2 separate regions of the Homo sapiens genome follow, and region 2 is linked to region 1. Evidence: fine-mapped expression QTL. A gene starts in region 1. The other region holds a variant in brackets. All regions are shown on one strand. Distances are from middle to middle. Region 1 holds the start of SNX11 (sorting nexin 11). Region 2 overlaps SKAP1 (src kinase associated phosphoprotein 1).

The links. PIP is the estimated chance that this variant, and not a neighbour inherited with it, causes the effect. A credible set is the group of variants that fine-mapping cannot tell apart.
Region 2: its variant is the best candidate, but not a certain one, in a credible set for the expression of SNX11 in whole blood (TOPMed, PIP 0.63).

The regions. Positions count from the first base shown.
Region 1 is chr17:48,106,545-48,109,044 of GRCh38, reverse strand. SNX11 (sorting nexin 11) reads right to left here and starts at 1,279. Exons shown (of 7, transcript NM_013323.3): 1 at 1,207-1,279. RefSeq lists a silencer at 1,114-1,273.
Region 2 is chr17:48,163,710-48,166,670 of GRCh38, reverse strand. The region is part of intron 10 of SKAP1 (src kinase associated phosphoprotein 1); the gene reads left to right. Among named protein-coding and RNA genes, the nearest start is that of MIR1203, 8.7 kb to the right of the region's middle. The variant A/G (reference allele first, on the strand shown) is at 1,078.

The DNA.
Region 1 (2,500 bases):
ATGAGAATTGCTGGAACCCAGGAGGCGGAGTCTGCAATGAGCCAAGATCACACCACTGCACTCCAGCCTGGGCGACAGAGCAAGACCCTGTCTCAAAAAACAAACAAATAAACACTGGAACAAATACAAAAACCTAGACACCAAGTAGTAATTTCTAGCAACCACTCTTCTCCATTAGATTCCTCCCCACAGATACCACTCCTCAAAAGAAAAAGCTCAGTTCTGCCTCTGGAGAAGCAGCAGGAAGTTCCTAACTTTAGTTCTCTGATCTGGGAGATGGATCTGTACTTCATCCAAATAAGGCTAGAGTCAGTGACCATAGCTAGTTACATAACTTAGTGTTAACTACATTTTCTGGGCCCTTTCAACCACATCTGAAGTTTCCTTTACTTTCTTCACCTGTACCAGCACCAGTAGCTCTGGTGAGTACCCGATTGTTTGCTGTTTACAAAGTAGATTCATCGTAAAGCTTTCTAATATAGTAACAATGCAAGGCTTTAGTCTCACCATTTATTTTCTCTCCCATTTAAACAACTTCAAGAGACAGGTTAAGAAACAAATCAGGTGATAAAAGTAGATGGAACTACTGAGACTACCGTCCCTTCTTACTCAATCTTGAGCCTTTAGTGCCAGATGGCAGAAAGCAATTCAAAAAGCTCTCGCTCCAATTATAAATATCACAGGTACTAAACAGAGGAAGCTCCCAGTTCTGACCAAGCTCTGTGTGATCTCAACCAAGCAGTTATGCTCCATCTTTTTGTCCATCTCTAATCGTACGCCTTTCACTTGGAAGGTAAGTAACAAAGGCGACCACAATCTACCGCCAAGTCTCCCGTGTCCACGTAAAATACTCGCCATTGCCCCCAGTCTTAGCCATTTAAGTAAATGTCCCCAGAGTCTTTTACTACGGCCACTCTTTCTCCATTCTCAACAAACTAGGACCGAAAGGTCCACATGGTCCTTCTTTCTTTCCGATTAAGCTTGGGGGGTAGGAAGTGAAAGATACACTTTGAAGGTAAACTGAAAAGCCGGGTTTCCTTTCTTGGATCCCGAGCAAGCCCTTGCCTTAATCCCGGGTGGTAAGAGAGTCCCTCCCTAGGATGTAAAGCGATGCCACCATCCCGAGTGCCACTACTGACGCTCAAGCCCACGCCCCCTCACAGGAGAGCAGCACCCACTCCCCAGGCCCCGCCCACGCCCTCTCACCTGAGAACAGCACCAGCTCCCCACAGCGACACCGCCCGCGCCCCACCATATAGCCAGATCACGGCTTCTCCTTCCGGGTGAGTCGCCGGTGCCCCGGTGCACGACGGGAGACGCCCCAATCCCGGGTGCCCGGGACGCCCCGCCCCTACAGGCCCGGGCTCTGAGTGGGATTCCCGCTTCCGAATAGCGCGGCTCCGCTGGCCAAGGCCCCGGACTGGAGTCGGGATCCCCCCTCCACTCACTTGGGACGCCGGAGAGTGCACGCAGGTGCCGGGTGAGGGACGGCGAATGGATATCCAATCCGGGGCCGCGTTCCGCCCACTGTCAGGGGAAGCCAATCAGCGGCCAGGGGGCGTCAGCGACGGGCAGCCAGTGGGTCCCGGGAGCAGAGGGGTGTAAGGGGGTTGTTACTCTTGTTCTCGCTATGCGAGGGATAGTCTGCAGTGTGGGAGGTTCGGGGCTTTAGGAAGCCCACATCCCTGGATCCTCACTAAGTCCCGAGAGCCACCATTTGAACCTCGTAGTTTGCTGTTCCCCAGCGGAGCTATCAAGGGGACTCCGATTCAGATTCGTAAAGCCACGGACCGATTGTCAGAGTGAAAGTCAGACTCGAGAGGGTCCGGCGACTCAGATTGCTCACACCGAAACAAACTCGAAGCAATATCATGCAGCTAGGGAGCAAGAGAAAGCCGTTCAATGTGTTGGTGGTCTTTTAACAACTTATTTAAAGATAATTTCAGCAAGCCTAGCGCGGTGGCTCACGCCTGTAATCCCAATACTATTAGGGAGGCCGAGGCGGGAGGATCGCTTGAGGCCAGGCTTGAGACACGCCCTACCAACTTAGGGAGACCCTCGCCTCTGCAAAATATTTTAAAAATTAGCCGGGCATGGTGACACGCGCCTGTAGTCCCAGCTACTCGGGAGGCTGAGACAGGAGGATGGCTTGAACCCAGGGGTTCGAGGCTGCAGTGAGCCCTGATCACTGCAGAGCAAGACCCTGTCTGAAAAAAAGAGAGAGAGCTAAAAGGAAGAAAAGAGAGGAAAGAAAAGAAAGGGGCCGGGCACAGTGCCTCACGCCTGTACTTCCACCACTTTGGGAGGCGGAGGCGGGTGGATTACCTGAGGTCAGGAGTTCGAGACCAGCCTGGCCAACATGGTGAAACCCCGTCTCCACTAAAACTACAAAAATTAGCTGGGCGTGGTCATGGGCACCTGTAATCCCAGCTATTCAGGAGACTGACACAGGGGGATTGCTTGAACCCAGGAATCGGAGGTTGCAGTGAGACAAGATCGC
Region 2 (2,961 bases), 57 kb before region 1:
ACTCAATGCCAGGCCTTATTGACACGATCATTTTAGTAATCAAGAAAATGTAAATAACATGCTGGCCTGCCTTTAGCCACTTTTCCCTGATCACAGCCTGAATTCTGTCGCTACCCAGTGACTCCCAAACATAAGCTGAACTGTGGAAGGAACAGTCAGATTTTATTGTCCCTAAGGAAGGAGAAAGGCAGAGAGATGTCCTGGTCCTTTTTACCTTAAAACTTTGCTCGTCACACAGGCTAATTTTCAGCCATTGACTCTATCATCAGTAGCACCAACTTGGCCTCAGTTACAAGAGAAATGACTGTCACTAGTTGTAAAGAACCTGGCATGCAATGACAAATGCTTTGCAATAAATAGAAAAAAGAAACCAATACTTTTTTTTAACTTGTTCTGTTGCTATTCTTCTTATGACATTTTGGTTGCTTGGAGTTTAGCTTCCCTTACATAGGATAAAGAGAGTAAGATGCTGCTTTTTTTTCTCTAGAAAAAGCCCTTCTCAGCTCTGCTAGCAATTTAAATGCAGTGATCATACCCATTAGCTTCTCTATCATTGTAATTGTTGTTAATTGTTATAACTGTTTTAGTTATTAGTGGTGTCATTATTGCTCTAGGTCCTCTGTCTGTTTTATGCTGAATATATTAGTGCTTTGCTTTTGAATTACCAGGCTTTATTTAGTGCAGAGTTATGTTTTTCGGAGAGACATTGAGAAATGCTGGCATTAAGCTTTATTCTTTTGTTTTTCATTCCAAATGGACAGACTGGAAAAAAAATAATTAGATGGAATAATGTCCTTAAAATGAGAATTAGGATGTTTTGAATTAATTAAATGGTCAGAATGCTGCACCATTTCTGATTTCAGACGGCTGCCAGAGTAGTGTAAGCCTAAAGGAATCTAAATCCAGCCCATAGAGGCAAGCCTCACCCTTGGGCTCTCAGTTCCTCTCTCTGCTCTACAGAAATCAAAGTCGGCCGGGCACAGTGGTTCATGCCTGTAATCCCAACACTTTAGGAGACCGAGGTGGGCGGATCACCTGAGGTCGGGAGTTCAAGACCAGCATGACCAACATGGAGAA[A/G]CCCCGTCTCTACTAAAAATACAAAATTAGCTGGGCGTGGTGGCACGTGCCTGTAATCCCAGCTACCCGGGAGGCTGAGGCAGGAGAATCCCTTGAACCCAGGAGGCAGAGGTTGTGGTGAGCCGAGATCATGCCATTACACTCCACCCTGGGCAAAAGGAGCAAAACTTCGCCTCAAAAAAAAAAAAAAGAAAGAAAGAAAGAAAGAAAGAAAAGAAAAGAAAGCAAAGTCTCCTCATGCATTCTCTTGTTTATAGGATGAGTTGGGCAGGTTTAGGGAGAAGCTGGACTAGCCCTGCAGACTCTGGGCTTTTAAGCTCTTCCTGGTGCCAAGCTTCAGGAATGAAGCCCTCCTCCAACTTATCTCTTCCCCTCTTCAAGGTCTTTAACACCCACTTGGCCAGAAAAGCCTTTTCTGACCCCTCAAACTATGTTAGATTCCCTATTACACACAGCGTCCTCAACTTCTCCTTCACAGACATATCATAATCATAAATAAACATTTGTGTAACTGTTTTTTCCATGGTGCTTCCCCGACTAGAAGGTACCCTTGAGAGGAGGGCTCATGTGTGGCCAATGTGGGATTCCCAGTATCTAACACAGTCCCTGGCATTTAGTAGGTACTGTATACATGTCTGTTGGATGATGAGAATGAATTAGTGAAGTTGCATGCACACATACACATAAATGCATATCACATGTGTGTTAAACAGGAAGTCTGCAATATGGAGTCACCTTGCCCAGCTAAGGAATTATCCCTCACTGATTTCCTTAATAGAGAATACTTCTAGCTAGCTAGCAAGTTCAAACTTTTCCCAGTTTTTAGCCCTTCATTCTGCCTGTTTTTTTGGAGCTGTTCTACTTCTGACTGAAGTTCCCTATTCTTGGGCTGAGCTAAACCATCTCCTGGATTCCTGAACTCTGTCTTCTTTTGGCCTTTAATATCAAAGACCTTTTCTATCTTTATTTTTTTCCTGGAAGGCTTCTGTTTTTCTCCTAGCTTCTTGCTTTCCCTGTGATCTTTTGTGCTTTTAGAATAGATCTTTTTCCAGATGTTCTCCCAGGCCCATATATACCCAATGTCAAATCACTTTTTATGTATACACCAAAAAGGCACTCAATATTAGGACCTATCCCATATCCAGGCACACAGTAGGGAACCGTACTCCAAAGTGACTATCTGCTAGGCCAGAAAAGACCAAGATAACCTTGTTAGTCTCCTTACCACTTAGAAATATTGTTATGGTTTTAGAATCTATTTTTACAAAAATGGTTTTCTCTACCATATATAAATCCATGAAAAATATTGATGTTAATATTCTTTCATTCCTGAGTTTAGTCAAAATCTTGGGGTAATTAATCAACTCCATTAAAATGGAAAATTCATAATATATCCTCTGGGAAAACTACTTTCACTTTTCAGGGATTGATATTTCTCTATTATTTCATGTACTTAATATTTCCAAAAATGAATGCTTTGTCTATTCAATAACTAACATATTTCTCCCAAAGTATTTTTCTTCCAAACATATTATCAACTCTGTGGCAGAATGTTTTCACAGTAGTTATCTTGTTTGCTGCCCTCTGTTGTCTACTGCACACACAGACAATTTTATGTGTGAAGAAAACATGCCTGAATTTCTATATGGTTGACATTTTTACTTTTGTTTGCAATATCTGAGTTTTAACTAAATAGTTCTCTCCCTCCTCTGTTTTTGTACCCTTTAAGATTCCTACCAAAATTCTCTTCCAGAGACATATAGGGATTTTGTCCCTCCGTGCCTTTATTATTTAAATTGCTCGTAAGTCAGGAATAAGTAGAAAAAAAGCAAATATAGGGAGGGTGTCTGTGCCCCTACTGCCCACTTGCCCTATCCTCAGCCA